2 linked regions of the Homo sapiens genome follow. The protein of the gene in region 1 interacts with the protein of each later gene in a pairwise test. Each region holds a gene or a part of one and is shown in the gene's direction. Other genes may lie near its edges.

Region 1 (2,424 bases):
CCATTCTGGCCAGAGCAGGGCTGGAGGGAAGGAGCCAGGAGGGAGAGAGCCTCCCACCTTTCCCCTGCTGCGGATGCTGAGTGCTGGGGCGGGGAGCCTTCAGGAGCCCCGTGCGTCTGCCGCCACGTTGCAGAAAGAGCCAGCCAAGGAGACCCGGGGGAGGAACCGCAGTGTCCCCTGTCACCACACGGAATAGTGAATGTGGAGTGTGGAGAGGAAGGAGGCAGATTCATTTCTAAGACGCACTCTGGAGCCATGTAGCCTGGAGTCAACCCATTTTCCACGGTCTTTTCTGCAAGTGGGCAGGCCCCTCCTCGGGGTCTGTGTCCTTGAGACTTGGAGCCCTGCCTCTGAGCCTGGACGGGAAGTGTGGCCTGTTGTGTGTGTGCGTTCTGAGCGTGTTGGCCAGTGGCTGTGGAGGGGACCACCTGCCACCCACGGTCACCACTCCCTTGTGGCAGCTTTCTCTTCAAATAGGAAGAACGCACAGAGGGCAGGAGCCTCCTGTTTGCAGACGTTGGCGGGCCCCGAGGCTCCCAGAGCAGCCTCTGTCACCGCTTCTGTGTAGCAAACATTAACGATGACAGGGGTAGAAATTCTTCGGTGCCGTTCAGCTTACAAGGATCAGCCATGTGCCTCTGTACTATGTCCACTTTGCAATATTTACCGACAGCCGTCTTTTGTTCTTTCTTTCCTGTTTTCCATTTTTAAACTAGTAACAGCAGGCCTTTTGCGTTTACAATGGAACACAATCACCAAGAAATTAGTCAGGGCGAAAAGAAAAAAATAATACTATTAATAAGAAACCAACAAACAAGAACCTCTCTTTCTAGGGATTTCTAAATATATAAAATGACTGTTCCTTAGAATGTTTAACTTAAGAATTATTTCAGTTTGTCTGGGCCACACTGGGGCAGAGGGGGGAGGGAGGGATACAGAGATGGATGCCACTTACCTCAGATCTTTTAAAGTGGAAATCCAAATTGAATTTTCATTTGGACTTTCAGGATAATTTTCTATGTTGGTCAACTTTTCGTTTTCCCTAACTCACCCAGTTTAGTTTGGGATGATTTGATTTCTGTTGTTGTTGATCCCATTTCTAACTTGGAATTGTGAGCCTCTATGTTTTCTGTTAGGTGAGTGTGTTGGGTTTTTTCCCCCCACCAGGAAGTGGCAGCATCCCTCCTTCTCCCCTAAAGGGACTCTGCGGAACCTTTCACACCTCTTTCTCAGGGACGGGGCAGGTGTGTGTGTGGTACACTGACGTGTCCAGAAGCAGCACTTTGACTGCTCTGGAGTAGGGTTGTACAATTTCAAGGAATGTTTGGATTTCCTGCATCTTGTGGATTACTCCTTAGATACCGCATAGATTGCAATATAATGCTGCATGTTCAAGATGAACAGTAGCTCCTAGTAATCATAAAATCCACTCTTTGCACAGTTTGATCTTTACTGAAATATGTTGCCAAAATTTATTTTTGTTGTTGTAGCTCTGGATTTTGTTTTGTTTTGTTTTTTAAGGAAACGATTGACAATACCCTTTAACATCTGTGACTACTAAGGAAACCTATTTCTTTCATAGAGAGAAAAATCTCCAATGCTTTTGAAGACACTAATACCGTGCTATTTCAGATATGGGTGAGGAAGCAGAGCTCTCGGTACCGAAGGCCGGGCTTCTTGAGCTGTGTTGGTTGTCATGGCTACTGTTTCATGAACCACAAGCAGCTCAACAGACTGGTCTGTTGCCTTCTGAAACCCTTTGCACTTCAATTTGCACCAGGTGAAAACAGGGCCAGCAGACTCCATGGCCCAATTCGGTTTCTTCGGTGGTGATGTGAAAGGAGAGAATTACACTTTTTTTTTTTTTAAGTGGCGTGGAGGCCTTTGCTTCCACATTTGTTTTTAACCCAGAATTTCTGAAATAGAGAATTTAAGAACACATCAAGTAATAAATATACAGAGAATATACTTTTTTATAAAGCACATGCATCTGCTATTGTGTTGGGTTGGTTTCCTCTCTTTTCCACGGACAGTGTTGTGTTTCTGGCATAGGGAAACTCCAAACAACTTGCACACCTCTACTCCGGAGCTGAGATTTCTTTTACATAGATGACCTCGCTTCAAATACGTTACCTTACTGATGATAGGATCTTTTCTTGTAGCACTATACCTTGTGGGAATTTTTTTTTAAATGTACACCTGATTTGAGAAGCTGAAGAAAACAAAATTTTGAAGCACTCACTTTGAGGAGTACAGGTAATGTTTTAAAAAATTGCACAAAAGAAAAATGAATGTCGAAATGATTCATTCAGTGTTTGAAAGATATGGCTCTGTTGAAACAATGAGTTTCATACTTTGTTTGTAAAAAAAAAAAAGCAGAGAAGGGTTGAAAGTTACATGTTTTTTTGTATATAGAAATTTGTC
Region 2 (3,500 bases), on another chromosome or scaffold:
TAATATAAGTAAAATTAGATATTTTATGTCTGAATTTAAACCTTCTCATTGTTCCAGTAAAAAGAGCAAAATGTCTTTGTGTGGCATATAGCTCTGTTAACTAATAATTAGTGCTGTCTTTGGTAAAATGTTTTAAAATTTAGATAATTTATTTTTCTTCACATTTTTCTTAGTATGGTTCTTCTGTGTCACACAATAGGAAGGAAGTACAGAAATGAATTGTTTTTGTAAACCTCACTTCTTACCAACTATTTGTAGTGTGAATTTCAAGAGAATTGTTGTTTTTCTCGATTAAAGGGGAGAAATGGAAGTAAGTGTGAGGCAACTTAATCTTTAATAACAGAGCTGGAAGTTAGGAATGGATAGCTACAGTAAATGACTTCTTTTTTTAAGTAAAATGCCACACATGAGCATGAATGTTTCAGAAATGCAACACATGAAAAAATAGAAATAACAATGGAGTTAAATAATTAAGGTGACGTATGATAGGCACAGATAAAGGGAATGAGTTAATGTAATGACTAGGGAGGAGCCAGACAATGAATCATAATTAGGAACATCTAGGTTATGCATAGTATCTTTCTCAAATACAATTTAAGGGACTCAGAATTTCATTTTGTTCCAACTTTCTCTCATATGGGTTCTCTGAAAATGATTTTGTTTGTAGGCACATGACCCAAATATTGCATGGGATAAAATTGTTTTTCTGAAATTCATATTTATCTGGGCCTCCTCTGTTTTTATTTTTAAAACAGAGGTGATTTGGTCTTGCCATTTGTTTTTAACTTTAATACCTGTATAATCTAGGACAGCTTTTAAAATTTATTTATTTTACCCTGGCACGTGCAAGAGTTTTTTCAAGACTTACCTTTTTTCCCCCTTGGTAACAGAATCCCTATTGCCAGAATCTTTTACAGTTTTTACCTTGTAGTGCATAAATCAGTTGAATACTCATCTGAAAATTTCCTTTCTTTGATTCTTAAGGCCCAGTTGAAAGTCAGCCTGATGTATTGGAGTAATAAAGTCAGCCTGATATATTGGCATAGCCTTTGGCTGATGAGAGACCTAGTTTGAGGAAAAAAATAATAGATCTTATTTTCTTTTTCTCCAAATTGAGTAGAGGTGATATTTGGAAAAATATATATTGTTAGCTCCATTGGCTCCTTTAGGTCTCAGGCAAAGTCTGTCACCGAGGACCTTTATGAGAGACATGCAGTCTAGTCAGCTATTCTCAACTGTGGTGTTGACACACTGGTGTGACAATCATTTGTGTGATGTGTTGCAAGAGTTAAAATATTTGTGTTGTAAATTATTTACTTTTTAAATAAATGAAAGCATTTGAAGGTTATCTCTATATTGTCATTTTTTCTTGCTTGCATTTGAATAAGGTTCTTTTTTAAGTGGGAGATAAACACAAGTTCAAGTTACAAGTAGCCAGAATTGCTTTGCCTAATTTACTCACGTCCCAGTCCATATTTGTACCTGAATTTTTAGATTACTTCTCTCAATATGTGCATTGTTGCTTCCACTTCATGTTTTAAGACAATTATTCTTAATCAGGAGTGTGTTAGAATTTCTTGGAAGGCTTTTTCAGCAACGTGTATCTGGGCTTTAAAAACTATGAAGATTTCTTTATCTTCTAAACATCTCAAGTGGGGTAAGGACATGTATGTTTTGAAAAAACTACCTAGGTGATTCTGATGTACATCCCCAGTATGAACTCTGTTCTAGGGATTTCTTTGGATCTAAATACTCATTTGGCTATACCAGGATGCATTATCTTCTTAAATTAAGTTGCATTTATTTTAGATTGCAGATTATGTGCTGTATCAGTTATTACCTCCAGTTGCTTTTATGCTTGTTTTTTAAATTTGGCACTGCCATATTAGCATACCATTCATAATTCATTTTTATTATAACTTCATATAATTTTCAACTTTAGTTTTATCATGTGTAAGATGGGATAATAATTTCTATTATTTTTCAAATGGAGATTAAAGTTAAGAGGATCAAATGAGAAATGTATATAAAGGGGTCTTAAAATAATGTTATAATTACAATAATTAGCTTTTTTTTCTGTATACTTGATGCTGGTTGCTAATTCTAGCAATAAAGTGTTTGTTAATAATGTGTCTATTTCCGATAATTTATGATCCATTTAAACATTTCAATGTAATTTTTTTATTTTAAAAGCTCATGCTTTATTAGATAGGCACTATGTTTTAAAATAGCACTCTTTCTTGCCTAAGCGCAAATAAAAACATAGATATATCTTACAAACATTTTGGCTGTATTTTAGAAGTTATTCTGATGTATATTAGCCTTTTAAAATACTATTCAGAATATAGGGGTCAGTCCCAGCTTTGCATAGTGTTGCTTAAAGAAAAATACAGTAATCAATTTGTTTAGAGTCAATTTTGGAGACGTTTTGGTGCTTTTCAAAACTGTGGCGATTTGAGGTTATCTTAGTTAAGAGTACTTATTTTCCCTACAATTTCCTGATTTATGTTTTACCCTCTTGCACTCCATAGATGACTACATTTCAACACATTTTATATTCAGGAAGAATGGCATTGTGCAAAGCACAGTACTGAGGAAGGAGATAACTGGTGCATTGTACTGATGCATTATATAAATGATTTATAGCTGGGAAGTTTTTTAAAAATCATAAACACAGATAAATCAAAATAGGAATGAGTATGAGGAAATACTGAGGTGTAGCAATCCTGGTACCTATAAAGCACTATTTTTTTTTCCTTAGTAGTGGAATCTAATTAAAAAATCTGACTAATCACTTATATGATTATTTAACGTTTGAATAACTTGTATAAACAAAAGACCTTAAGATTTTTTAGTCATTCATTCAATAGATGTTTAATGAATATCTCTGTACAAGGCACTGATGAGTTAAACACAATTTCTGCCTTCAAGTAGCTTGAAGAAATAAAACAAGTAGCTTTATCTCAAGAAGAAATAAGACGGTAAGTTTTCCCTAAATTACAGTTATTTGGAATAATTGCTATACACAGAATACTATGGTAGTTTAAAGGAGGGGAGATTATTTCCAGCTGGGGGAATGTAGAGTATTACAGTATACTGTGTTACTTGGTTGTAATACTCTACATTCCCCCAGCTTGTTAATTTTTACCAATTAAGAGCTTCTGCAGTAGGAAAAATAAATTCCAAGGACTTTAAATACTCAATATTATATGATAACTGATATTTATGTAATTTTTACTATTTAAAAATATTTAATCTTTTCAACAACTACTTTTCTGTTCTTTTTGTAAACAATCTAAAGAAGTGTCATGTAACCAATGAAGTTTTGGGTTTTTTTGTTGTTGTTTTTGTGTTTTGTTTGTTTTTTTTTTTGAGACGGAGTCTCACTCTGTCACCCAGGCTAGAGTGCAGTGGTACAATCTTGGCTCACTGCAGCCTCCACCTCCTGGGTTCAAGCAATTCTCTTGCCTCAGTCTCCCAAGTAGCTGGGATTACAGGTG

What was found.
Region 2: the proteins of ATXN1 (region 1) and REL interact in binary tests that used the Homo sapiens proteins (3 or more experiments, as listed by UniProt).

Annotation. Positions count from the first base shown.
Region 1 is NC_000006.12:16,301,037-16,303,460, reverse strand, and holds part of ATXN1 (ataxin-1), read left to right. Parts: 3' UTR 1-2,424. UniProt on the Homo sapiens protein: Chromatin-binding factor that repress Notch signaling in the absence of Notch intracellular domain by acting as a CBF1 corepressor. Binds to the HEY promoter and might assist, along with NCOR2, RBPJ-mediated repression. Binds RNA in vitro.
Region 2 is NC_000002.12:60,884,574-60,888,073, forward strand, and holds part of REL (proto-oncogene c-Rel), read left to right. Parts: intron 1-3,500. UniProt on the Homo sapiens protein: Proto-oncogene that may play a role in differentiation and lymphopoiesis.